4 linked regions of the Homo sapiens genome follow. The protein of the gene in region 1 interacts with the protein of each later gene in a pairwise test. Each region holds a gene or a part of one and is shown on either strand. Other genes may lie near its edges. The genes, in order: KLF3, NUP58, BACE2 and KIF1B.

The links.
Region 2: the proteins of KLF3 (region 1) and NUP58 interact in binary tests that used the Homo sapiens proteins (3 or more experiments, as listed by UniProt).
Region 3: the proteins of KLF3 (region 1) and BACE2 interact in binary tests that used the Homo sapiens proteins (3 or more experiments, as listed by UniProt).
Region 4: the proteins of KLF3 (region 1) and KIF1B interact in binary tests that used the Homo sapiens proteins (3 or more experiments, as listed by UniProt).

The regions. Positions count from the first base shown.
Region 1 is NC_000004.12:38,659,611-38,667,216, reverse strand, and holds the start of KLF3 (Krueppel-like factor 3), read right to left. Parts: upstream 3,019-7,606; 5' UTR 2,756-3,018; exon of another isoform or gene 2,589-2,755; intron 2,424-2,588; exon of another isoform or gene 2,324-2,423; intron 1-2,323. UniProt on the Homo sapiens protein: Binds to the CACCC box of erythroid cell-expressed genes. May play a role in hematopoiesis.
Region 2 is NC_000013.11:25,311,620-25,318,644, reverse strand, and holds part of NUP58 (nucleoporin p58/p45), read right to left. Parts: intron 5,763-7,025; coding exon 5,613-5,762; intron 5,032-5,612; coding exon 4,894-5,031; intron 3,289-4,893; coding exon 3,178-3,288; intron 1-3,177. UniProt on the Homo sapiens protein: Component of the nuclear pore complex, a complex required for the trafficking across the nuclear membrane.
Region 3 is NC_000021.9:41,276,156-41,283,051, reverse strand, and holds the end of BACE2 (beta-secretase 2 isoform A preproprotein), read right to left. Parts: 3' UTR 522-6,896; downstream 1-521. UniProt on the Homo sapiens protein: Responsible for the proteolytic processing of the amyloid precursor protein (APP).
Region 4 is NC_000001.11:10,360,558-10,367,582, reverse strand, and holds part of KIF1B (kinesin-like protein KIF1B), read right to left. Parts: intron 6,655-7,025; coding exon 6,540-6,654; intron 5,892-6,539; coding exon 5,758-5,891; intron 4,301-5,757; coding exon 4,239-4,300; intron 2,484-4,238; coding exon 2,338-2,483; intron 2,175-2,337; coding exon 1,935-2,174; intron 1-1,934. UniProt on the Homo sapiens protein: Has a plus-end-directed microtubule motor activity and functions as a motor for transport of vesicles and organelles along microtubules.

The sequences.
Region 1 (7,606 bases):
TAGCCGGCCCTCCCTGACCCTATATTCATGAGCAGCTGGAGTTTTTTAAGACAACAACAGGGGGGTGGAGGTGTTTGTTCTACGGGTGTGAATAATAACACCAGCTTTATACAGGGGACCTGCCCTATTTACAAATAAGAGCTGCCACATACAGTAAACATCATAAGTGAAATGTGATTTTATCATATTCAAGCAGCAGAGACCTTCCTAATGAACACTAGCCTCCCTCCTGATTTCTTTTGTCCCTTTCTGCCCCATTCCAATGGCTAGTCCCTAGCTCAGATCAAATTCCGAGTTAGGGTAATGATTATGGTTCAGCCTCAGTGCATCAAGAGGAAAAAAGATAGAGCACTGCTGTTAGGAATTCAGATTACAATTGGGGTACCCCACAGAACCAAAATTGGAGCAACTGTAAGCCTCCTTTAGTCACAGAACTAAATTCCAAGACAGACTGTGGGACATCTACAGTAACCCAAAATTTTCACTGTCTTTTTCAAATGCAGTTATACACATCTTTGCAGAGCTGCTCATCTGTTCAACATATACACACGTTTATAGAAATTCGCCTTTTAAGAATGTGATTCTGTTCCTGACATTTATCTAAAAATTATTATGCAATCTGTACACCAGAGTACTAATTTCTAGAAGTCATTCTAAAATGTCTATTTTCCCTTTGGGTTATTTTTAAGATAGTAAAATCCATTCACAGTTCCTTTCCCATTATTTCTCTTTACTTTGTTAGCCAGGACTGTTTAACTCAAGCTTACGTTATCAGAGATTTAAGAATGTGGTGTGTGCAGACTAAGTACAGGTAAGGAAAAAAAAAAAGAAAAAAAAAGGAAAAAAAGAGCATCACTGTGCCCATAGCAACAAGAAGATTGGGTTTTAATTTAGAAACTTTGCAGTGAATAAAACAATAGCTTTCTGCAAAACTCTGTTGTCGTTTTGTACCTGACAAGGTTTTGTGGTCTAAGCAGTTACTTTTCTTTGTTATTCCCATGTTGAGATTTTTGTACTTGCATTCCCTTTCATGCAAGCTAAATGTTCTTTACAATGTATCATCATTGAACTTACCGATAGTACATTAGGTTTTTTTCTTCTAATAAATAGTTCTGCAGCAAAGCCCACTGACTGCAGAAATGAAGATACCAGTTTCTCTAGGGAGTTTAATTTAATCGAACATCTAATTTCAGGTTTCTATTAACAGCCTAAGGTCAACTAACATACCTCTTTTCAAACCAGAAGAAATCACTCGTGGACACTTTCCTTAAACACTATTACTAACTCCAAAAAATTTGTAGATATTAATGCTAGCAGATTGTTTTTTCCCCTAAAAGCAAGTCTTCTTCCCTAGGGTGAGGCAGATCATCCAGATGAATTTCTCTTATAAAAATGCTCCTCAAATTCGTACAGAAAAGGATAGCACAAAACTGCTGTGTGGAAAAACCTATAATGAACAACTGGCCTATTCCCCACTTGATTTTGCTGGCACATTTCAGGTACTTGTCAGAATACCACTTCATACTTTTTCCCATATACCAGACTCTTGTGAGAATATAATCAATATATTTAAAATGTCTTGGGTGATATTAATGGAAACATAAATTCTGAGTAAGAAATTCAGTGGTTAAGTGTAAAATGTTTATTTTAGTGAAATACAAGAAGGTGAGCAATTTCCAATTTCCGTTTAACTTGACTTATTAAAAATAAGTCTCATTCACATTCTTCTAGTATTATTGTATACTGCTATAAAATTTAAACCAGAAAAGTGCTTCTCCTTGTCAGTAGCTATCTGCCCAAAAAAATGAATATGACAATTCCAGATCTCATCTGCCATCTCTAAGAAAGCCACTTGGAAATGTTAGGTAGGTCCCATGGGTCCTGATCCAGGGATCTGTCCCTGGGTCCCCATCAGGCTCGGCTGCAGGCAGTTGCCTAAGGCGTCTTCCGCCTTCAGCCACGCTGCAATCCTTGCTCCAGGCACTGCGGCAGGTTCTCTCCATGCCCCCAGGAAGACTCTCCAAACCCGACCAGCTCATTTCTCCTGCCCCGGAGGATCCAGACGCCCTGGCAGCTCCTGGGCTCCAGAACCGAGAATGGGATGCTGCCTCCAATCCCAATTGCCCTAAGTTTCTTTCCAGAGGGCCGGGAGACTGCTCCAAGTTTGCTGTGGCGGGCGAGCGGCCGCGCGCCGTGTCCTGGGAGGGGGGCGGCGGGGGGCGCGGGCGGAGGGAGGGGAGGGGAAGGACGCGGGAGCCTGGGTTGTGGTGGTGGTGGGGGGGCACCGGGAGGGGGAGGAGCAGGAGCGCGCGGCCGCGGCGCTACCTTTCTCCAAACAACGTTGCCACACGCGGAGAGCACGGAGATTTCTGGGGCTTTGGAGGGAATCGTGAGCGGGCGGGAGGAGGCCGGGGACCACACAGGTGAGCCCCCGCCCGCGCCCTGCCCGGGACGGCGGCGGGCGCTGCCAGCCCCGCTCCCCCGCACCCGGGGTCCGCACGGTGCCTCGCCTCAACCCCTCACTTTTCACCGCGAACCCGTGACCCCCTCCTCCTTGCTTGCTCTCCGCCCCCACCCCGGCTAAGTGTAGCCGCCACACTTTCCCAAGCCCGCAGGCGCCCCCCCCAACACCAGCGCTGCACCCCCGACCCATTCCCCGCGGCCCCCTCCAGGAGAAAAAATGAAACCAGACTGGCCGAGGAGGGGGGCGGCAGGGACCAGGGTGCGGAGCAGAGGTGAGGGAGACGGGACTTACTTTGCGAGGCGCGGTGCAGGGCGCCGCCGACGAGAAATAAAGGCCCCGATACGGGCTGCCTGGAGCCCCCCGAGCGCAGCAATGTCAGGGCTCCAGTCCGGGCGGCGTTGGCGGCCGCAGGGGACGGGGACGGGCGCGCGTGCGGCGGGCGCTCTCGCTGCGCTCCGGCTCGGGCCCCGGCTCCGCGCGGCTCCGCTCCTGGCTCCCCTCTGGCTCCTGGCACCAACTCCGGGCAGTCACATGACGCCGGCGCCGCTCGCTCTGCGAGCCTCCCGGGGCTGGCGGGGTAAGTAGAGGCTGGGACCCGGGGTGGGAGGGTCAGGGAGGGGAGAGGGAGCCGCCGCGGCCGCCCGGGCTGGGCGGGTCCCCACCCACTTGGGTGGAGGCAGCCGCCGGAGGGGTCGGCCGAGTCACTCGCGCAAACACGCACCCCGCCCTGCGCCCTTCCCCCGCCACCCCCGCCTCCCGCGCCGCCTCCGCCCCGCCCCGCCCAGTCACCCGGGGACGGCCTGACAGACACTCATTATTCCCCGGAGCCGGGCGCCGCCCCGCCGGCCCAACCTGTCCCACGAGGCGCGGCGCGGCCGTGGGGCTGGGCGTGCGCGGCGCGGCCTCCGCCCCCCGCCCGCGTCCCCGCCCGCGTCCCCTCCCCGCGCCCTCCTCCCCGGAGTCCGCGCCCCGCCAGCCCTCCCGCCCGGCCCAGCCGCCGCGCCGCCGCCCGAGCCCGGGGGGAAGGAAGGGCGGCGCTGCCCGCTCCGGGCGTCACACGGCTGCGGCCCGCTGCGCTGCTTCCAAAACACACAGCCGGGCTCGCGGGCGAGCCGAGGCGGGGGGCGCGGGCTGCCAGGGCCATCGATCAGCCGGCTCCAGCGGGAAGGGCGGCCCCGGGCGCGGCGGGAAGGGCTGGGCCCCGCGGCCGGCGCGGCGCGGCGCGGCCCCTCCTCGGCTGAGCGCACTCAGCTCACTGCAAGAGAAAAGCCGAGCCGAGGCGGCCGCGGTGCAGGAGCGAGTGGGCCGGGCGGGTTCGGGAGGGGAAGAGCGGCCGCTGGGGCGCGCCGAGCCTCCCTGGCCCCGAGTCGCCGGGGTCAGGGGACACCCTGTAGGCGCGCTCTTTCTTTGTGCCCTGGGGCGACGGGTCCCCCTGGCCGGCGGCCCAGGCGGCGCCCCCCACCTCGTGGGACTTTTCTTTGAAGGCCCGGAGACCCCTGGGGCAAAACTCCCACGGGCCAGGCCTGCCGCTGGAGCTAAAAAGCGGCATTTGCGCAGTTGGGCTTGCCTGGAAACTTGGCAAACTTTGGTCGGATCCTCCCCTGCAGAGCGAGGGCCTGGCCTGGCGACCCCCTCATTTCAAGTCGCTTCTAGGGACCTAGCGCCCTAAGCTCAGTGGCCTTCAGGGTGCTGCGAGCGAGCGGGGCGGCACAAAAGCGCGTTCGGTCCAAGCCAGGCCCCTTCGAGGACTTTGTGTAGATTGGTACCTAAGTTTAATGCCTTTTGAGTTTCTTTTTAAACAGTATTAATGTAATAATTAATGTAATAAAAAGAACAAAGGACGAATTCGTTCGATTGTTTTAAGTTCTGTGTAATGTTTAAAACCGCCCCTGCTTCAGTGTATGGCTTATTATTGCTTCAAGATGTTTTAAAGGCCCTTTAAGTTGACCCATCTCGCTTTGATGCTTCATCCAGACATCGTGCTGCTTAAAACGGAGTGATAATAGTATATTTCGAGCCGCTTCATGTAGCTACACAGTATTGTAAAATTAGTACTCGGTAACCTCAAGTAGTGAAATCGCATATTTTAAATAACGCAAGTCCAGGAAAGGCCACGTGGAGGATACCCAGAACCGACGCCGGCTCATGGGACGTCGTGCTGTCCCATAAGCTTCATCTTTAAAATGTAAAGGGTGTGAGTTTTTTTTTTCTTCATAATGAATAAAAGACATTCCAGAAAAAAAAAGAGTTGGATTCGTGTCAATTACTAATTGCCATTTATTGATCACTGACATCATTAAATGGCTGATTGGCTGCCTTAAGGTTTGCATTAGCGGAACACCGTGCTAGGAATGGCTGGTGAAACTGGCTCATAGTAGGTGCTCAAAAAAGTACGTTTTTTTCTCCAGGGACACAGTGACGAGAACTTGAAGCACATAAACCATGTTTTTTACCTTGTTCATGTGGGTGTGGACGCAAAGGGGAAGAGCGAAATAGGCCTGTCGGAGAAAAGTGTGACCCAAGATAAGAAGGGAGTGGTTTTGATATGGAAGGGGCAGGCGGCAAAGGAGAAGAAAAGCCATTTTAAACAGTTAATTAGTGAACACTGTGTTCGGTGCCCTGTGGGAAGCTGCTCAAATGCAACTTGTCGGAAATGAATCTATCTAGTGCTGGGTAGCTCAGTGAAGGACACCATCATTCTTCAAAGTGCCCAACAGGGTGGGGCGCGGTCGCTCACGCCTGTAATCCCAGCACTTTGGGAGGCCGAGTTGGGTGGATCACTTGAGGCCAGGAGTTCGAGACCAGTCTGGCCAAGTTGGCGAAACATCGTCTCTACGGAAATTACAAAAATTAGGCATGGCGGCGCACGCCTGTAATCCTAGCTATGTAGGGAGGCTGAGACAGGGTGATTGCTTGAATTCAAGAGGTGGAGGTTGTAGTGAGCTGAGATCATGTCACCACTGAACAGAGTGAGACTCTGTCAAAAAAAAAAAAAAAACCAAAACAAAACAAAAAAAAAACAAAACCCCAACAGAAGCACCTAAGCCTTTCTTCTCGCTAGCAGGGCATAGCCCATGTTTCACTGAGTCCTGGACCTCCTTGGTCACTACCCACTCTCTGGCCACTATGCTGGCCCAGCCTGTTGCCACCATGTCTTGTTGGTCATCCTGTCATCCTGTTTGTAGTATGGGCTGAAGCATGAAAAAGGCATTGGAGCACGGGAGTAAGAGTGCCCTTTCCAAAATGCAAGCCTGATCGTGTCAGTCCCTTCAATGGCTTCCCATAGGATGAAGTCCTAAGCTTTCCACCCCTGCTGGCCTGGCCTCTGCCTGTCATTACAGACACTTCTTCCTCTTCTCTCTTCCTACTCTTTTCCAGCAACGCTGAACTTCTTTCCGTTCCTTTCTTCCAACTCTCTCTTCCCACCTCTGGCCCTTTGCACATGCTCATTTTTCTAGGTAGAAAAGCCTTGTCTTCTCAACCTGACCTCTACTCCCATTTCCCTAAATTCTATACATCGTTTCAGTCTTGACTTAAATGACATTTTCTCCAAATATGTATTCTCTCACTGCACCTTTGGACAAGTTGAGGTGCTCTGGTAACATCTAGTGGGGCGTGATGGGAGATGTTTGGGTCATGGGAGTGGATCCTCCTATTTCCCCTCTTGTAACACTTTCCGTTCTTGTAGTTGGCTATTTAATGATCTCTCTGTGGCACTAGACTGGAAACTCTATGAGGGCAGGGACCTTGTCTTTTCAGCAAAAATGTATTCCCAGGGCCCAGATGTTCAATGAATATTTGTCAAAGGAATAAATGTGGTTTATGAGTTGCGAGGAGGGAGGAGTCATTCTGAGCTGAAGAGGTGAGTGGGGGCTATAGGGAGGCAAGTGGCAGTGAACTATACCTCCATCAGTCCAGGGGCTTTGAAATGGTGAAGAGGAGGGAAGAGGGAGTTACCCCCCCTGAGTGCTTTTAAGCAACAGAGTGAGATAGTAAAAGCGATGCCTGGGTCTTTTTAAAATTCCTAACACTAGCACAGTGCCTGGAACATGGTCAGGTGTTCAGTAAATCCTACATGACAATCTCAAGTGTGATCTTTGTGGTAGCTGCTTTGCGCTTTTTCCTTGCTGACAGCAGGCCAGTCTGGTTTAGGTGTGGGAAGCCTATCCTCAGTGGAGGATACCCATGCCTGGTCCCAGCAGAGGAACCCTGGTTACTCCCAGCCAATCCCAGTGTCTTTTGCCAGTGACTGGTTGGAGGGTAGGTATGCAACCTAGTTCTAGCAAGTGGGACATGAAGGGAAGTGTGCTGGGGTTTTTTTCCTGATACAAGGAAATCCCCAGACCTGCTTTGGAAGCTGTTAGGTGAGGATGTGATGCTTGAAGCTGTAGTAGCCATCTTGTATTCGTGAGAGAAAGCCAACGTTTCCGTTTCCATGTGGATAGTTTTTTTTTTTTTCAAGTCATTCTGTTTTCAGCTCAAATGTTGCCTCCTCAGGAATGACTTCCTTGACCACACAATTTAAAACATACCCCCCTTCCTCTTTGCTATGGTTCAGATATTTGTCCTTTCCAAATCTCGTGTCAAAATTTGATCCTCAGCGTTGGAGATGGGGCCTGATGGGAGGTGTTCGGGTCATGGGAGTGGATCCTTCATGGATAGATGAACACTCTCCCTGAGGATGGGGAATAAGTGAACACTTCCTATGTTAGTTTCGGAGAAAGCTGATTCTTGAAAAGAGCCTGGGCTAGGCCTGGTGGCTCACGCCTGTAATCTCAGCACTTTGGGAGGCCGAGGTGGGCAGATCACCTGAGGTTAGGAGTTTGAGACCAGCCTGGCCAGCGTGATGAAACCCCATCTCTACTACAAATACAAAAAAAGATAGAAGCCAGGTGTGGTGGTGGGCGCCTGTAATCCCAGCTACTTGGGAGGCTGAGGCAGAAGAATCGATTGAACCTGGGAGGCGGAGGTTGCAGTGAGCTGAGACTGCACTGTTGCACTTCTGCCTGGGCAACAAGGGCAAAACTCTGTCTCAAAAAAAAAACAACCGAGCCTGGCACTTCCCTCCTGGCTCTCTTGTTTCTCTCTTGCCCTGTGATCTCTGCACACACTGGCTCCCCTTCACCTTCTGCCATGCAAGGA
Region 2 (7,025 bases), on another chromosome or scaffold:
GCTCATGAGACAAGTATATTTCTTCTTTCATGAACTGCTTACTTGTGATTTGCACACTTTTCTTACGGTATTTTTCTTATATATTTCTAAGAGCTATTTCAACATTAAGTATATTATTTGTCTCATTTACATAATTTAATATGTATTTCTAATATTAGACTCTTGTAAGATGTATCTCAATTTCAGAGATGTTAAAATGTGAAAAAATAAGCACCTAAAAATCAAGCATTTTGGGCAGACTGCTTGAACCCAGGAATTGGAGACCAGCCTGGGCAACAGGGCAAAACCCTGTGGCTACAAATTTTTTTTTTATTTCTGAGACGGAGTCTCACTCTAGTGCCCAGGCTGGAGTGCAGTGGCGTGATCTCAGCTCACTGCAACCTCTGCTGCCCAGGTTCAAGCAATTCTCCTGCCTCAGCTTCCCGAGTAGCTGGGATTACAGGTGCCTGCCACTGTGCCCGGCTAGCTTTTGCATTTTTAGTAGAGACGGGGTTTTACCATCTTGGCCAGGCTGGTCTTGATCTCCTGACCTCATGACCCACCTGCCCCGGCCTCCCAAAGTGCTGGGATTACAGGCGTGAGCCACTGCGCCTGGCCAAAAAATTTTTTAAAAATTAGCTAGGCGTGGTGCTGCGTACTTGTGGTCCCAGCTACTTAGGAGGTTAACGTAGGACAATCACTTGAGCCAGGGAGGTGGAGGTTGCAGTGAGGTAAGATCACACCACTGCATTCCAACCTGCATGACACAGCAAGTCACTGTATCCCAAAAAAAAAAAAAAAAAAAAATCAAGCATTTTACTTTCCTCATTTACCTTTTACCTCTGCACATGGGGTTTTACTTTTTTACCTCTTTCATCCAACTGTAATTTATGTTTCCATGTTTTGTATTTTATTAAGATTTTTTTCTTTCATATTTAGTATCTCTAAAATTGCCACCTATCTTCTATAGACGTCCTAGATTTTATGAGACATGGAAATAAAAATAAGGATTTCATTTTATGTTTCTCCAAATAATTCACCAACTTTTAAATTGACTAGCATATTATTTCTTTGATATGACATTTTATTATATTTTGTAAATACTTACATACACACAAACATGTATATAAAAAAAACTTGAGCCTGTTTCTACCATGGATCCCTGATTACCATGGACCCCCAATTAATCTACCTAGCTTTGCCTCAGTAATACACGTGGAGCTCTACAAAAGCTTCCTAACAGTTCTCCATGACAATTCTTGCCTTCCTGAATGCTATTTTCCATATGGCTGTCAGAATGCTCTTAATCTTAAAATACAAATCTCATCAAATCCCTTTAATAGACCCAAATTGCCTGAGGTATTAATATAATGACAAAACTCAACATGGCAAATAAGGACTCCATGACTTCTGGAACCTCATCTTTCTGCTCTATGGCTAATCTGGCCTTCTATCATTTCCTCAAAAGGGTCAAGGTCCTTCTCATCTCTAGTCTCACTTGACGCTGTCCCCTCTTCACTGAATGCTGTTTATTGCTACTCTCTATCTGGTTAAATCCCACACTGGTACTGCAGGGCCCAAGCTAACTGATACAGCTACTAGAAACACAGAAATCATTTGGATTAAAAAAAAAGAATCCCTTGATATAAGCAATAGATAAAAGGGAACTGGGATGTAGTAATCAGAGATCCATAGTAGAAACACACCCAAGTTATTTATATACATGTTTGTGTGTACATAAATATTTATAAAATTTAATGTCATATCTAAGACATTTATTTCATTTATTGTATATATTCTCCTTGCTCAACTCTATCTTAGGTACACTATGAAAGCAGGAAGATGTGGGGAGGGGCAGAGGAGGGGAGATTAATTTCTTACATTTATCTTACTCTTCTGCCTTAGCCTGCTCTTTGAGCCTAAAAACAATTATAATAGAGAAGTACTCTCATGCTTAAAATAAAAGTAATAGAAGTGGTACCAAGCTATTCCACTTGAGTAAACAAATAAGCTGCTAAGGCTGCTTTCCTAATTATGGAGTTGCTACAGAGAAAACTAAGTAAAAACAAACTTTGTTTAGAAATTTGTCAATTTTCACTGAAAGAGAAATCTAAACTTTGTAAAAGTTTAAAAAGGTTTTACCAACTTTAAAATAGTAATTCACCCTAGAATAGTATCTCCTTATAATAAAACCTGTGTCCAGTTTTTTAAAAAAAAAGTCATATAGATACACAGATACTATTTCACAGCTTCATCCATTTATCTTTCTTCAGAGAAGTTCAATATGTATATATATACCCTAGTATATATGGTATATATTCTAGTGAAACATGCTTTCATCAGAAGCAGAAGAGATGGTGCAAAACAAAGTAACACAAAAAACAATGAAAACATTTTCAAAATGAATTTGGATTAGCAAATTTTTAAAACCAAGATTCAACGTGGCAAGGGCACAGCAAGAAAGGTATTTTCATACTGGTTAGGGGGTAAACTGGTAAAATCTTTCTGGGAAAGCGATTTCACAAACTATACACTAAGAGTCTCCAAAATATCCCTCTCTTTAAGCCAATGATCCAATTTCCAGGTATTTTCCCTAAGAAATAACCAAAAATATAAACAAGCATTGATAATAAAAGGAGACACCTACATGTCTGGCTCTGCTAGGGTTTTACAAATAGTAACCCTCAAACCATTTAACAGATAAGGAAAAACCAAAGCACATAATATAAGTAACTTCAATAAGGTCAGAGAGCTTATAAGCAGTTGAGCCAGGATCTGAACCCGGGCAATTCCACTCCAGAGCAGACACTCTTAAACTACTATATTATGTTGCCTTTTTAGATAAATGCCCAGTGTTTTACTTCCCAAAGTAAAACATCTGGAAATAAACATCTAACAAGAGAACAATGGTTGACTAACTTATCCATCCATAAAACTGATATTAAGCAGCATTAAAATATTTAAAAAGAGTTACTGACAGACAAATGCTTCTGATGTTAGATAAGAACAGACTACAAAACAATACTGCATATGTATCATGATCCCTATTAAAAAATACATATTCGTATACACATTAAGATAGCTAACTGTTACTACTAAATATATAACTGCTAATCTTCCACACAAAGGAATTTTGAGCAACCTAGACATTCCCTCAACAGAACTGTTAAAACATAAAGTTACAACAGCATTACTTACTCTTTTTATCTGAGGAGCTACTGAAATCTATACCACCAAGGCCTTCATTGCCTGCAGTTGAAGTAGCTGCTGTAGTTCCCAAAGTCAACCCTAAAGCATTCTGTCCAAGTCCTATAAATAAAACATAACTTATAAATTCCATCAAAAGACTACAACAATTTCCCCTTACTGATCAAAGGACTCTAATGCTTTTAAAGTTGGATCCTAGATTTTCTTCATATTTGATTTAGGCAAACAACAAGAAACAAGCCTGGAGATGTTTTGGCCAAAGACTGATAACCTTTCTTGAATTCGATGGCATATGCAGTTTGGATGATGCGATTTTTCATTATTACGAGGGCCAGAACATATATCAATTCAGTATGTAGGCACTCAATCTTCACTTGTTATAAAGGGGTTTTGTTACAGAGGGCTTTTAAACCCTCTCTACAAAAGCAGTTTCAGTTGGTGTATTTTCAGGTGAATACATCTTGTCTTACAAACACACTTTGGAACTACATACTTTTAAGATAATCTAGTGTGAATTTATAACATTTGAATATAACATGTATTGAATATAATTTCATACTCCCAAGTTCGTTTCACAAAACTTAAAAAAAAGTATTAGAATTCATTTGCTTATTTACATCTTCCCTCACTGACAAAAGGAATAAAAAGGACCAGACTACGGTTAATCATAAGTCATTAACGTACACTTGTGAGTCAAGCGCAAAATTTCAAGCATCTTGTGTTGATAAATCTGTATTTCTTTTTTATTGTTATTATTGTTTTTGAGATGGAGTTTCGCTCTTGTTGCCCAGGCTGGAGTGCAATGGCATGATCTCGGCTCACTGCAACCTCTGCCTCCCAGGTTCAAGTGATTGTCCTGCCTCAGCCTCCCAAACAGCTTGGATTACAGGCATGCATCACCATGCCCAGCTAATTTTGTATTTTTAGTAGAGATGCGGTTTCACCATGTTGGTCAGGCTGGTCTCGAACTCCTGACCTCAGATGACCCACCTGCCTTGGCCTCCCAAAGTGCTGGGATTACAGGTGTGAGCCACCGTGTCCAGCCTAATAAATCTATACTTTTATAAGACCATGCATTACTGAGCTAATACAATTTTTGTTCTTTTTAGAAGAGATGTTATCTCTAGATCAGTTTACTGACTCCTTAAACAGGCTCTTCTTTGTTTCCTTATCTGGTTAGTCAATATTGAGAAAGAGGAAAATGTATTTCTAAAATATGGCTAATAGGCTGGGTGCGGTGGCTTACGCCTGTAATCTCAGCACTTTGGGAGGCCAAGGCAGCCGGATCACTTGAGGTCAGAAGTTTGAGACCAGCTTGGCCAACATGGTGAACCCCCTCATCTCTACTAAAAATACAAAAATAAGCCAGGTGTGCTGGCACACACCTGTAATCCCAGCTACTCAGGAGGCTGAGGCAGGAGAATCTCTCTTGAACCCTGGAGGTGGAGGTTACAGTGAACCAAGATCACGCCACTGCACTCCAGCCTGGGTGACAGAGCAAGACTCCATCTCAAAATAAATAAATAAATAAATAAAATACGGTTAATACATCCAATTATGTATGAAAACCATCATTTTATAATTTAGTTTTCATATTTAAAGGAAAATATGCAGATTAAAAAGTGACCTGCTCAAAGTACTAAAATAAAAATAAGTACATTTAAATATAAATATTTACTATTCTGGAGAATAAATACCATCAATTACCTGATGTTCCTGTGTTTGTACTCTGGAAAAGTGAACCTCCCAAACCAGCTAAGGCTCCCCCTAAAGAGAGGCCTGTTGATGCAGTTGTAGTTGTGGCTGTTGTCCCACCCAAATTATTTAGAGTAAATCCTGTGGATGCTATAAAAAGAGAGATAGTAAGCTTTCAAAAGGCAACTTATTTAACAGCACCATAGAAAAATACAAATACGATGTTTTTAAAAACTGACATCCATGATAAAATTGGCTCTTTGGAAGAACTACTTGCTAAAAATTACATACTTAAGAATAAAGAGAAATAGCAGCTTCAAAGCAAAAATCTGCGACAGAAATAAGGGCTTTGAGGAGTATTAGAATGGTACCAGGTAACTGATTCTAGATAGCAATATTGTCTTCAACCCAGGCCACCAACTTCACCTTCATATTAAATGAATCATAAGCCAGGCAAGGTTTATGCCAAGTCTTTGTCTTCCCCTGTCACTAAATGCCTCCTTCAAAACAAAGTCAATATTAACAGCTTTACATTTTACCTCTCTAGCCCTCTCCCCTGCTTTGCTCTCTAAATAGGGACATCAAGACAGCCTCTCCTGCTTCAATGCTCAAAGCTGAATTTTCTTCTTTATAAATCAATAATTTCTGTAGTAAGGTGACTATCTATGTTCTCTAACCAGATAAAATTGAAATTTAACCATTAAATGCAACGGTTTTTCATTCTGCCTCACCTGCTGGAGTTGATGTCAGAGCAGACGAAAGAGTCAGACCGCTAGCTGAGGTAGAGGTAATAGGTAGAGCAAATGGTGTGGCAGATGCTGCAGGTTTATTGAATCCTAAACTGAAGCCTGTTGTAGCTGCAGATGTAGTGGCTGGCGTTCCTATTTAAATAAATAAATGAATAAACAAACAAACAAAAATCCTACTTTACCTGTAAGTGTTCTATTATACTGGTTTCAATAAGGATCCTTAAAAGTTCATGATACTACCTTTTGCCAATAGAAGAAGGGTGTATCTGTGAGAGAAAATATGTAAAAGTTGAGACTAAACCATGGTGAACACAAAAAAGATGGCTCTTTAAGAAAAACAAAAGAATGGCCAGGTACAGTGGCTCACGCCTGTGATCCCAAAACTTTGGGAGGCCAAGATGGGCAGATTGCTTGAGGTCAGGAGTTCAAGACCAGCCTGGCCAACACGGTGAAACCCTGCCTCTAGCTAAAATACAAAAATTAGCTCAATGTGGTGGTGCACACTTGTAACCCCAGCTACTCGGGAGGCTGAGGTACGAGAGTCACTTGAACCTGGGAGGGGGAGGTTGCAGTGAGCTGAAATCGTGCCACTGCACTCCAGCCTGGGAGACAAGAGTGAGACTCTGTCTCAAAAAATAAAAAAACAGAAAAGAAAATCCAATCGATGTAACATATCAATTTTTATTCTACTCCTAGATTTACCTCTAATGCAGCATTTATCCTCCTCCTTTCCCTCTCAGCAGAAAAATGGTCCCTCCTCTCTAATACTCTATCAATAACCATTCTCTATTCCTTTCTTCTGGCCCTTGTGTCTCTGTCAGCCCCCAGCTGTCTCCCTATTCCTTTTCAGTCCTTTTTTTCTGTAGCTCTCTTTCCTCTGTTCATGTCTTAACTGACACTTCCTAGAGTTCCATTCCTACCTCCTTACTTCCCCAATGACACACCCACTTTCATCATTTCTCCTACAGGTGATTAAGTCTAAACTGACATTTACCTAAGTCCTCATTGTCTAGTTCTATCTTGATGTCCCTTTGGCCTCCTACATATCTCACCACAAACATTTTTTGCTATATCTCCAACCTTGCTCAGTTCAATTGCTTAAGCCAGAAACCAGTCATCCTTGACATCCTTTCCTTCTCCTGTACTCCATTAGTTACAAATCCTGTCGATCCTACTTCAGAAATATCCTGTACTACAAGCATCCTTAAAAACCTTAGCTTAGGCCATATCTCTCTTAAGAACTACTACAACAGCATTTATTTCTCTGGTATCAGTCTCTTCTAACCTCTAATCTATTCTTAAAATTATCTTGGTTACCTTAAAAAAAAAAAAAAAAAAAAAGACAGGTGCCGTGGCTCACGTCTGTAATCCCAGCACTTTGGGAAGCCAAAGTGG
Region 3 (6,896 bases), on another chromosome or scaffold:
GCTCTGAGAGTGTGGTTCAGGATGGCGGATGGACCAGAGTGTAGTGCAGAGAAAGAGCTGGGCTGTTGGAGGGGAACAGAGCTGGGTTCCTCTCCACTTTTTAGCTGTGTTTTTCTGGGCAGGTGACTCAGAGATGGTTTCTCGTCTGTGAAATGGTAGAATGCCATCTCCCTGCAGGGTGATCATGGGAGTGACCGCACAGGCATTGCCAACCTGGTCACCCTCAGTCCCCAGGACCAAGCTAAGCCATCTGTCCCATCCTTAAGACCGCTGAAATGTGCTTACTGAGTTTCTTCTCTGCAGGTGTTTTCTTTCCACCTGTAGGGTTTCCAGACTCTAAAGCACTTTACCCTCCCCACCTTCAGCATGTTTTGCATCTTAATGATTGAGCCTGAACCCTCCCTTCCACTCCATTTTATCCTTGACATTTTCCAGGAACCCACAATGAAGGAGTGGACGTAATGGACCGCCAGACATGTGACCCAAGAGAAGTATTTACAAAACATTCCAAAAGCAACAGGTTGGGAGTATTATTTATTCAAATAAACAAAAATGTTTTATTTCCCTTTCAATGGTATATATCTTAAATTGCTGGAACATACAAGTATAAAAATAAGATTATTTTAGAAAACTCCAGTTTTGAAGGGCACGACAATAGTTCAGACATTTGTCAGTAGCTATGAAGCCACTTTTAACATGGAATGAATATCCCTTTACTCCAACTCTTGGTCTTATTACATTTTTAAATCAAATCAGCGTGCTGGAAATAGAGAAAAATTCCCAAAGGGAAATATAAAATAATTTTAAGCATTTTCAGAAATACAAGTTACACTTAAGAAACTTGTATTAAAGGATGTTAATCTGAGATAAACAGAAAACAAACGTTTTGCAAAGCACTACTTTTTGCATCTGTTTGAGGATACACAGTTTGCAGCTCTCCTGCCAGAAGCAAAATACTGACTCTAGCACAGCAGAAAAGGCATCAACTTTAAGAAAAAAATGAGTGGTCGCTTTCAATGACTGAACATAACATATTAAACTTTAAGAATTTTTAACAATGCAAATTAACAGCAATAGTAGAAAATACATCATTTTAGATTACAAAAATTCAGCTTTTATTAGCACATGACAAATCTCATTCATTCGCTGCCCTCTCATATGTGCTGAGTAACTGCTACACAGAATTTCAAACCTCACTGATATAAATGTGAGAGATGACATCTACAATGAGAAAAATGAGGGAAAAAAATCTCGTTTTATACCACTAGCAACAAAGAACACAAAATTGTATTAAATTTGTTAAGAAATGTTATTTTGTGCAATTTTCATGATAGATTAATTAGCTTTGTTCACTTTTTTTCCTCCATCTTAAAAAGAGATAATCTTTTAATGTTTTCTTAACATTTCATTCAGGAACACTAATCTTAGAAATGCGAGGCTTGTGTAAAATTTTACTTTAATAGGCACAATGTAGCAAGCGAAACCATACTCATATCAGGGAACTTGCAATGACCTCCACATATAGCACTCAACAGAAAAACATATGTCCTGACCTTTGGAGACACTTCCCTGCTTATGATATTCTTATCTGTCTGTGCCTTGTGAATAAAAATGCATTTTTATTCCAACCCAAATGAAGAAAATCCTATGGAAAAACATCAATGTCAAAGGCTAGGTTGCCAAGGACACCCAAGGTTTCTAGCCTTTTATTGATACCACGAAAGTGACAGCTGTGCCCAACTTACTGAAGTCTATATTATAAATCTGTCATTTCTAATTATAAATCTACATTGGAAAAAATATTTTACTCAGATGGCTATGTGTGAGGCACACGTGTGTTCTACACAGTTTGGACTTTATCTGGTTGGTCTTACACAAACAATTATCCATCTGTAAAGGGAACTGCTCACTTCTCAGGGCTGCCCTGATTCCCAGAGGAGAGACAGATATTTTACCATCACAGCGTTCCCCAAGATGCTGGCAGAGACACCAGGATGGCTGCTCTCACAATAGTGTCCAAGAAGTACCCGAGGCTCAACGGGGCACCCAAGCATCAGGGACCAGGTACCCGCACGTCGCTCTTGCCGTGGCTGGATTCAAATTTATCAGGAAGCTTTGTGATGTCTCTTGGCCCAGTCACTACCCACGGTGTGCTTTTTAAGCACACAAGTGTGATGTAAAAGTTACACAGTACAATTTAGTTTAGAAGCACTGGACATCTGTGTGTAATAGCTGCTGATAAGAAACCCAGAGGAAGCTCAGGGCAGGGAAGAAAATACTGGATTTATTGCTGGGAGTTACGTATCCCCAACAGCTGTGATAGATTCCAGCCACTGATGCAACCTGAGGTTCGCTGGCAGCACTAAGCAGCGTGGCTATGTTCTGCCTTCCACATTCCGCAGATGTGGCTAACAGGGTGACACCAAGAGCCCAGGGAGCCTGCTCACGTCTGAAAGCCGTGGTTTCTGCTCTGCAGCCTCACCTGGGGAGCTTACTGAAATGCAGATTCCCTGTTCCCTCCTGCACTGACCCTGAATGGGGCTGGGTGTGCTCCAGGACAAGATGGACCTTCCGGGGACGTGGAGCCTGGGGAGCAGGGCTCCCACGCTGACAGCAGTGAGACAGGAGGGAGCTCCTTTCCTGGAAGTCTCTGACAGAAGACATTCTGGAGAAAGAAGCTGTCGGATGTTCGGAATGCATGGGCTGGGCTGGCTCAGCAGAGCTGGCGGAAACGGTGAGGGCCCAGCTGCCGTGCCCCTCAACGACACTGTCAGGTAACTGCTGCCAGGAGCCTTCCAGATGCTCAGACCCCAGAAGCCACTTTACCGGCCCCCTTTGGCCTCAGTTGCTTGACCCTCCCCTACAAATTTCCAGGTGCATGACCTTGAACCTGCCTGTGTCCTGCGTGGGCCTTGAGGCATCTCTAGTTTGATTAGGACAGACGTGTTTTACACATGGCTGTCAAGCAAGTTTCTCTTGGCCTAATTGTTCCTCTGGCAAATAATCAATCCTGAGAAGTTCCTTTACAAAATACCTAAAAAGTAGACTGTGCCAAAAACGTGGGGTGAAATGAGGTGCCCACGGCATCCTGGGGACGTTCTTGGCTGATGCGGACCTCCGTGCCCCACTGCCAACTGAGGGGTGGGACCTCTCTTCTGGCTCCTTCTTGCCCTGCCCTCTTTTCAGATTCTGGAACTTCCCAGGTCCCAGCCATCCTGTACTCTCCATCCGTTGAATGAACCAATCCTTGCTCCGCGTGGGCAACACCCGGGCCACCCAGCCACAGTCTCTCTTTGTCAAAGCTGTCACTTACACATGACTCCCGCTTGAATATTCCTGAAGTTTGGAATTGGTGGATCTGCAAAATAAATCACATCTCCAATGGATTCAGCCACTTTAAGGGGAAAAGAAATCTAAGGATGGCTGGAATGAAACTGCATTTTCTTTCCTTTTTTGAGACGGAGTCTTGCTCTGTTGCCCAGGCTGGAGTGCAGTGGCGCAATCTTGGCTCACTACAACCTCTGCCTCCCCGGTTCAAGCGATTCTCCTGCCTCAGCCTCCAGAGTAGCTGGGATTACAGACAGGCATCACCATCGTTGGCTAATTTTTTGTATTTTTAGTAGAGACGGGGTTTCACCATGTTGTCCAGGCTGGTCTCAAACTCCTGACCTCAGGTGATCCACCTGCCTCGGCCTCCCAAAGTGCTGGGATTACAGGCACGAGCTACCGTGCCTGGCCTAAACTGCATTTTCTAAAAAAATATGTACTGCTTATTTTGTTAGCATACTTTTAATTATATTCTTATTCTTTCTACCCCTCTCAAAATGTATTTTTCCAGCTTGCCATTTAATTGGTAAACAGCTGTAAAGTTCAAACGTGAAATTCTTAAAGCTCCCTAGAGACATACACAATAACTTCTGTGGCATGGACTTTTCTCGGCATTAAAAAAATCTAGTACCTCTCTTGGCCAGAACCCCTAATTTTACACTTTATGGTGTTGCGTCGTTTTTCAAAAAAAACAAAACAACAACCAAAAAACTTACTGGCAAGTTTTTCCTCCAAACAGTTTTCTAATCAAGTCTAATAAGTTTGTGCAAGAGAAAACACATGGGGATTCCACTCCATTATTTGATTTCCACTAATCAGGATAAAGTCTGTGAAATTCAATTACTGTTGTTTGTGGAACAGACTGTTGAACAACGATTTATTCCCAATGATATCGAGTGGCACTAGTCCAGAACTTAGAACTGAACCACACGTGGCAGCTCCACCAAGCAGGGACAGGGAAAGAGGAATTTAACAAGTTTGCACCCGGCGTATTAAATAATTAAATCCCTCTTCACCTCTTAAATGAAATGATGGAATCCCCAACTCACAATTGCTTTTCAAAATCTATTACCCAAAGCACTGCGGAGTCACTAATGCTGTCTTCCTGGGAACTACTTTCACAATTTTGAACAGTAACTGACCCCAAATTTATCTCCAACCAAAACCTCTGTGTTTCACCATGAATCAGGCAAGGTCCTTCCAAGTGTTCAGAAGTGGAACCTGTTGTGGAAAAACACTCCCCTCGGTCACACACAGGGCATCTGTTTCTTGAGTGCTAAGTACTTGGTTTTGGTTCAGGAGAAATACAAAATAGTGTACAGTATATGCTGGGAGATCGGACACCAATCACTTGTGGCTCTTTCAAATTCCCAAGAATAAAAATAGAATTGGTCCCCATCTTGTTTCTTGCTATTTTTAATAAATGGTTTCAGTTACTGAAGGCAGGATTTATTTCAGACTTCCAAAGAAGTTATCAAGGAAATAAAGCAGCATCTATTCATTTCCCATCAGACTTGACAAGGTTTCTGATAACAACCTAATGCTAAGTTGCACCTTTTCAGGCAAGGACCGTCTTCCAGAATTTTCCACAGTGTATTACAAGGTAAAAATGACACCCTCAAAGGGTTGTTAATTCCTTTCCTGTTCCAAGCAAACCTCCTTGAAAGCTTGCCAAGCTAAGCATCAATTTGCATAACTGGAGGAGGTGGGTGTCACTAACAGGGTTTTGACTGGAAGTCCGATTCTCAGCAGCAAGACATGCCAGAAAAATGTCCCACATTCAATTGTCTATCTCATTCTTGTTGCGAAGTTATGCTTTTGTAGTTTCAGTATTTTCATCAAAATGTCACATCCAATGACATGCGATATGAAAAGATAAAGAAATCTGATATGAAATACAGAGCATGACGGCAAACTTCATTCACCTACTCTACCTGGAAACCTCACTTGTTACTTTCCTGTATTTTAAGAACTATGCCTGTTCATCTGCTGCAGGAGGAAGCTCCCCGCCTCTGAAACCTAACACAATACAACGGAACAGAAGATGCCTGTATGAAGAAATAAGCAGGAAAACTAATCAGGGCATGTCTGCGATTCCCTCCTCTTATTTCAGGGCTTTGAATTTTTCACAGCAAGGGTGAAGGCACAATCTAGGGGTGTTGGCTTCACTCCTGTGCAAAGCGGCCCACAAAACAGCAACCACGGAAAAAGCCAATGGGATGAGAATTGGACTTCCAGACATCTCTCCGTGTGAAATGCATTCTGAGATTATGAGTTTTCAACAAGCTGAGAGCGGATGTGACAACGGGCCCTGATACAAGAGCCCCCTCCTCCCGTTCCGTGCCGTCATGTTCTTTCCAAGAGGCTGCAACTCAAATCTTCTCTAGTGAAAACAGCACAGAAGGTTCTTCTGGCTGCTGGAGAGTCTTCCAGGACACCATGACAAGCCGACGTGGCCTCCACGTCTCTTTGGCAGAGTCCTATATTTCTCAGTATGGTGGTGACCCGGGGACCCAGGGAGCAGAGCAGATGGCTGAAACATCCACACGTAGCCTACTGTGAATACAAACGATACTTCTGCAGGAGGGGACACTTAGCACTTTTGGTGGAATTCTGTAATATAGCCAACCCACCCCAAAAAAATGCAAAGGGAACACTGAACTTGGCACACAAGCAGGAGAGAGGGGATACTGTCTTTTAACTCTTCTCCTAATGACATCAGGTCATATAAGGCTATGTCAAGGAAACGGCTTCCACTTTTCTTTGGCAAAGGCCTCGATAAGTGACAGAAAGTAGGGACTGCCCCCCGAAATAAGGCTACCACTGCACAACTGTTACCAAAGATTAAACACCCCCAAAGGAAGAAGCACAGAGGTCAACTGCTGAACAATTTAAGCTGATTGGATGGGTATGCTTGAGGCTAACCAGTTCTGCAAAGGGAAACACACGGTTTCGAAGCACGGGGATAAGTAGACGTTACCTTGTGTCTTCTGCACATCTTGCATCTTCCTTCCCTGACAGCTGGTCAGAAATAGGGGCATCAGGCCATTTCCCTGTTTCCCAACAGGGTAATAGCCAACCTACTTCCAGAGAAGATTTGGAAAAAGAGACAACTAAGCTAGTGAAATAGAATAGTTTTTTCTCATCAAAACATGATTTATTAATTTTAAGCAAGAGTAAGCATATGTGATAGTGGCCAGCTTGGGGATAGAACTCTTCCTGGTTGATGCACAGTTCAGCACCTGTTGGGTCTTGGCTGTTGGGATGATAATTCTTTTGGGTGAGGGGAACAGCCGTGGTCAAGGCTGCCTGCACCCCCATCCAGGCACAGGACCCTGGGCAAAGTCTCAAAAGAGGTAGTGTTTTTACTTTCGCACCAACAATACAACATAAGTATTGGGTACAAAAGAGGAGATTTCCTTCCCCTCTACCTCAACGGGCAAAAGGCCTTCCATCTTCAGAAGAGGCTTGTGAGGACCATCGGTTGATGACCTCCTAGTGAATTCTGGCTCCCATTCAGAGCACAGAGAAACCCACAAAAGGGGCCTGTGGCTCTGGTTCCAGGTCTC
Region 4 (7,025 bases), on another chromosome or scaffold:
AGCGTGGGCCACAGAGCAAGACTCCATCTCAAAAAAAAAAAAAATTTAATAAAGATAAAAATAAAAAATAAAAACATCATAGTGATCTCTTGACCTCACAATCCGCCCACCTCAGCCTCCCAAAGTGCTGGGATTACAGGCGTGTGCCACCGCACCCAGCCACCTCTGCCTTCTTTAAAAAACTTTTATCTGGCTGGGCGTCCACACACCTGTAATCCTAGCACTTTGGGAGGCTGAGGCGGGTGGATCACCTGAGGTCAGGAGTTCAAGACCAGCCTGGCCAACATGGTGAAACTCTGTCTCTACTAAAAATACAAAAATTAGCCAGGTGTGGTGGCACATGCCTGTACTCCAAGCTACTTGGGAGGCTGAGGAAGGAGAATCGCTTGAACCTGGGAAGTGGAGGTTGCAGTGAGCCAAGATCATGCCACTGCATCCCAGCCTGTGTGACAGGAGTGAGACTCCATCTCAAAAAAAATAAAATTTTAAAAAGCTTTTATCATTTCTCATCAGATTACTGTAATAAAGATAAAGAATTCTCCCTTCCTCAGTGTATCTCTTCACCATCAATCCATTCTCTTTATTGCTGCCAGAGAAATATATATATTTTTTGAGATGGTGTCTCACTCTGTTGCCCAGGCTGGAGTGCAGTGGCGCGATCTCGGCTCACTGCAGCCTCCGCCACCTGGGTTCAAGCGATTCTCCTGCCTCAGCCTCCTTAGTAGCTGGGACTACAGGCGCACGCCACCACGTTCGGCTAATTTTTGTATTTTTAGTAGACACGGGGTTTCACCATGTTGGCCAGGATGGTCTCAATCTCCTGACCTTGTGATCCACCTGCCTCGGCCTCTCAAAGTGGTGGGATTACAGGCGTGAGCCACCGCCCCTCGCCAGAAATCTTTCTAAAACACAAATACCTGTTTAACATATTTCTGCCTTGCTCCCATCATCCACTCTAAACTCTTCAGTGCAGTATACAAGATTCTTCACTCCACACCTCCTGTTCCAGTCCCACGTGAATTCCCCAAGACTGATCATGCAGGACACCACTGCCTCCCTCCTGATCACGCAGGACACCGCTGCCTCCCTCCTGATCACGCAAGACACCGCTGCCTCCCTCCTGATCACGCAGGACACCACTGCCTCCCTCCTGATCACGCAGGTGTCGACACTGCTGCCTCCCTCCTGCGCATCCTTTCAAGGTCAGCTCATGAGCTCCCCACCATAGACACTTCTCCTCTGACTCCCATAGCATTTGAAACACACATCTCTATTATATGCTTGTGACCTAATATTCTGCAACCTTTATATTTTTTAATTTTTTAATTTTTTATTATTTTATTTTATTTTTTGAGATGGAGTGTCACTCTGTCGCTCAGGCTGGAGCACAGTGGAGCTATCTCGGCTCACTGCAATCTCCGCCTCCTGGGTTCAAGCAATTCTCCTGCCTCAGCCTCCTGAGTAGCTGGGATTACAGGCGCTCGCCACCACGCCTGGCTAATTTTTGTATTTTTAGTAGAGACAGGGTTTCACCATGTTGGCCAGGCTGGTCTCGAACTCCAGACCTCAGGTAATCCACCTGCCTCAGCCCTGCAAAGTGCTGGGATTACAGGTGTGAGCCACCATGCCTGGCCTAATTTTTGTTTTTGTAGAGACAAGGTCTCACTATGTTAGCCTGGGCTTGTCTTTAACTCCTGGGCTCAAGCAATCCCTTTGCTTCAGCCTCCCAAAGTGGTGGGATAATAGGCATCAGGCACTGTGCCTGGCCCTGTAAGCTTGTTGAGGGTAGGAACTGCGTCTTTTTATTTCTACATTCACAGTATTATCACAGGCCTTCAAACACCTCGAACAAAGGTGTTGAAAATGAATAAACCGAGAGGCTAGTTTGTGGAGCCTTGTGGGAAGACGTTCAGCAAAGAGGAAGGGATTCACACCTTGGTAGCCAGCTCTTTCTCTCGGTCCACCAGGCTTTCGATGTCTCCTGAATCATAGCCACTGCTCTCGCTAGGTGTGATGGCGCTTTCAAAGGTAGTGGTTGAGATCTGAGAGGAGATACTGGTGGAGGTGCTGAGGGTCCCACTGCTGAGGCTGGGGGATAACGAGTCGCTCAGGGATTTGGGGATGCTGTCACCAAGTCTCTCACGCAGCAGCAAAAAGTGGCGGGTTTTTTCCACCTGAGAAGATCAATACTACTGCTATAGCAAACACAAAGCTCGTTAAGACCTCAGGAGAGAAAAGTGAAAAGCTATGATCACATGCAGCAGCGGGGAGGAAGACTGATACTTTGGCAATCTTGTCCGAGAGTTCTTGCATCTGAACAACCCTGCCCCTGGATACCTCATGTAGGAGCTCCAGCTTCTCCAGCTCCCACTGGTGCTCAAGGATGAGGCTGTCTCCACGGGGCCGCCAGCCTGCTAAGTTCTCTTCTCCCCGCACATATGCCACTGACGTATCTAAGATTTTTCTTCTCCTTCTCTGCATACCTAAGACAAGAGGAAACAAGTTTTTGTTTCAGAAAAAAAATTCAATTCCAAGTTTAGGTCAAAACGAATTAATAATTCTTTTTTTTTTTTTTTTGAGATGGAGTCTCGCTCTGTTGCCCAGGCTGGAGTGCAGTGGCGTGATCTCAGCCCACTGCAAGCTCCGCCTCCTGGGTTCATGCCATTCTCCTGCCTCAGCCTCCCGAGTAGCTGAGACTACAGGTGCCCGCCACCATGCCCAGCTAATTTTTTGTATTTTTAGTAGAGACCGGGTTTCACTGTGTTAGCCAGGATGGTCTCGATCTCCTGACCTCGTGATCCACCTGCCTCAGCCTCCCAAAGTGCTGGAATTACAGGCGTGAGCCACCGCGCCTGGCCACGAATTAATAATTCTTATACGTAGCAAACTAAGACAGTTTGGTCTGAAGATATATGGGATTTTGTTTAAATAGCAAAGCAACTGAACGTTTTTAAAAACTGAGTTTTACATTCTTTGATAATTATGAAGACTGGGATGCAATTTAAGAAAATGATAAAATTATGATGTTAGGTGAAAATGCAGAAATATTAAATAGTCTGTAGTAGTCTATACACTATGGGGCCGGGCGTGATGGCTCACGCCTGTAATCCCAGCACTTTGGGAGGCTGAGGTGGGCTATCATCTGAGGTCAGGAGTTCGAGACCAGCCTGGCCAACATAGTGAAACCCCATCTCTACTAAAAATACAAAAATTAGCTGGGCATGGTGGTGGGTGCTTGCAAACCCAGCTACTCAGGAGGCTGAGGCAGGAGAATCACTTGAACCCAGGAGGCAGAGGTTGCAGTGAGCCAAGATGGCGCCACCACACTCCAGCCTGGGTGACACAGCGAGACTCTGTCTCAAAAAAAAAAAAAAAAAAAAAAGATCCTGTCCCTAAAAATAAAAATTTTTAAAAAGACGGAAGGGAATACACACACACATACACACACTCAGTAGCTCACTGGCTGACAGATGACAGAGAACTTTAGCCTCTATTATTTCCTGTTAATTTTTTTTAGTATTATGCTGGTTTTACATATTAAATACATGAATTTATATTAATTAAAAAAATTCCTCAAGAAACTATCTGGATAGTATAATAATTAGGTGCTACTTGGATTCATACTCAAAGTCTTCTTTACTTATCTAAGTCTTGCCTGTGGGCCCTGACTTGTTTTCCATGTATATTCTGTAAAATGACTCAAACTCACATTAATCAAATGCTATTAGAAAACCTTAACTTTTGTTCATGTTTCGGTTTACAAACATAGAAATGCTAAGTGCTGCTTAACTCCGCCTAGCTAGAGGAACAAGAGCAGTTTAAAAACACATTAAAAAGAATACAGAACAAATCTGACTTAATAATTTGATTTTTTTTTCTTTTTCTTTTTTGAGACTGAGTCTCACTCTGTCACCTAGGCTGCAGTGCAGTGGCACAATCTCGGCTCACTGTAACCTCTGCCTCCCAGGTTCAAGCAATTCTCATGCCTCAGCCTCCTGAGTAGCTGGGATTACAGGCACGCGCCACCACACCTGGCTAATTTTTGTATTTTTGGTAGAAAGGGGGGCTTCACCATGTTGGTCAGGCTGCTCTTGAACTCCTGGACTCAGGTGATCCACCCGCCTTGGCCTCCCAAAGCGCTGGGATTACAGGTGTGTGCCACCGTGCCCAGCCTAAATACAGGATACTTGAAACATACACAAAGATAACTATCACCTCCTCAATCCACAAGAGCTTACCTGGACTACCTGTGTCTGACATTTTGCATAAGCTGAGTTCGTAAATGCCAGTGACTCGATTCCTATTTGAAGAAAATAAAACAATTGTTTAATCTCTTAAAGCACAAAAACAGGAAAATTTCAATTTCTGCTACTTAAAATAGTGTCTTCTCTGCAGGGACTCAAATATAATTCCAGGCATTTCTTATTTGTCACCGCTCTTTTCTTATTTTGAACCTAAGTAGCATACCTTTTCCTAGAGGAGTCCGCTTTCATCTCAATTTAATTTTTTTATAGATAGGGTTTCCCTGTGTCACCCAGGCTGGAGTGCAGTGATGTAATCACAACTTACTGCAGCCTCGAACTCCTGGACTAATGTGATCCTTCTGCCTCAGCCTCCTGAGTAGTTGGGACTTCAGGCATACACCACTATACCCAGCTAATTTTTAAGTTTTTTTGTAGAGATAGGGTCTCCTTATGTTGCCCAGGCTGGTCTTGAACTCCTGGCCTCAAGTGATCCTTCCACCTTGGCATCAAAAAGTGCTGAGATTATAGGCATAAGCCACCATGCCCCACCTCATCTCTATCTTTTAAACACTTTATTTCAATAGGGTGAATAAAATTGAATGATAAACTAGAAAATTTAAAATATAAATGTGAAAACTAAAAATTTGTCTTTTCTTACTATAAGAGAGACGATATGAGGGAAACAATGACTAGAATGAAATGATAATCAACAACTTCTGGGGATTGTGAGTAGTAGGAGGTATAATACCTTCTATTGTATTAGTAACACTTATTTTTAAGCTGGGCGGTGATACACAGGTATTCATTGTATTGTTTCTTTCTTTTTTTTTTTTTTCCTTTTTCTTTTCTTTTTTTTAAATTTTGAGACAGGGTCTCACTGTTTCACCCAGGCTGGAGTGCAGTGGCTCTATCATGGCTCACTGCAACCTCAACCTCCCAAGCTCAAGTGATCCTCCCACCTCAGCCTCCTGAGTAGCTGGGACTACAGGTGTGTGTCACCACACCTGGGTAATTTTAAAATTTTCTGTGGAGATGGGGTCTGTGTTGCCCAGGCTGGTCTCAAACTCCTAGGCTTAAGCAATTCTCTGTCCTCAGCCTCCCAACGTGCTGGGATTACAGACATGAGCCACTGTGTATGGCCTTCACTGTATTATTCCTGACATATTTTGTATGCCTTAAATATGCATAACAAATCTTAAAAAGAAGAAAATTTCAATGGTACTCTGTTAGAAATAATGATGATGACATTTAAAAGTCTTTGCAAATTTAGTCTTTGCAAAATTGTTTTAGACGTGTTCACAATGTAATATTCCTTCCTTCCCTCATAACTCGTCCATCCATCAACATTTTATTAAATGTCAGCATGCAAGTCAGTACATTCCAGGTGTCAGTTACCAAAATGGTTCATAAACTGTAAACTAACCGTGAGACAGTAAGCCGAGAATACTTAAGGACTAATGATTCTGTTGTACTGAACAAACACACTGGAAGCTAACTTGTGTGAAAAACTTACGAATCTGGTGACTTTGAGTAGCCGCTGCCAAAGAGGCTACGCAGAGAGCGTGGTGGTGAGATCTTGGCATCTCGGGAGTAGAAGACCATGCACACATCCTTGGTGATGACAGCCGGCTGGATGCAATGATCCAGCTGAAAGCAGACAGGGTAGGTGCTGATGAAGTGCAGGCAGAGTACTGTGACTAGAGTCTATACACGAACGTATTTGGAAAGCGAGTCCCAGTTGTGAGAACTGAAGGATTTTAGCTCCACCAATTATTTCAACAGCCACCCAATGGATAATATGTGCAAGAGTAGGTAGTACTCCTTAGAGATGCATTTATTTTTATCTGAGGTAAATGTTGTTTCTCCTGATAGGTGAGGAAACTGAGGCAAAGAGAGTTTCTCCAAGGACATAGAGGAAGTAAGTGGCAGCACAGGGATTTGAACCGACAGGCTGGGTCTTGGGTCTGGGCTATTAACCACTATTACACTCTGTCCACAACTACAAAAACAAGAGGTGACATTTTCTTAAAAATCACACATTCTTCAAACAATGGTGATTAGGCTACTAAAGCTGAAGCTGCAATGAGTCATGTGATTTTTTGAGTAAACAGAACCCAGGAATAGAGTCTAATATAATCAGAAGAGTTAGCAATGTATAATAAAATGAAAAACTTAAGGATGTGGAGGAAGAAAGAGGACAAAACAAGTGGAATCTTCGCTGACCACTTCCTGCTGTAACCTGCACACTGTTCAGGGCTGACTGTTGGCATCAACTGAAGTTCCAAGTCTCCTCACCTCTAGGTAGGCCGACAAGGTCATGTAGATCTTTTCTCCATAGGGTGTCACTCGGTTCAGAAGAAGGGAGTTATGCAGAGAGCTATCCCACACAGCCTCAAAGCGGTAGAAGGTCCTAAGGTCAGAAAGACAAGAGGGAATCATCCAAAAGAAGCTAAAGTCACGTTAGTCCAGGTACTGCCACTGTCAATCATCCTAAAGAACCATACGCCAACCAACAGACACTTTCAGTTTATCAAACTCTAATAACAGAGAGGAACCCTTATCTCCTAGGAGGAAAAGATAGGTCCCCATCCTCTTGCTCCCAACCCCACCCATCATTAAGGAACACTTAGTTGTGCTTTTTTTTTTTTTTTTTTGAGACAGAATTTTGCTCTGTTGCCCATACTGGAGTGCAGTGGCACAATCTCGGATCACTGCAACCTCTGCCTCCCGGGTTCAAGTGATTCTCCTGCCTCAGCCTTCCGAGTAGCTGGGATTACAGGC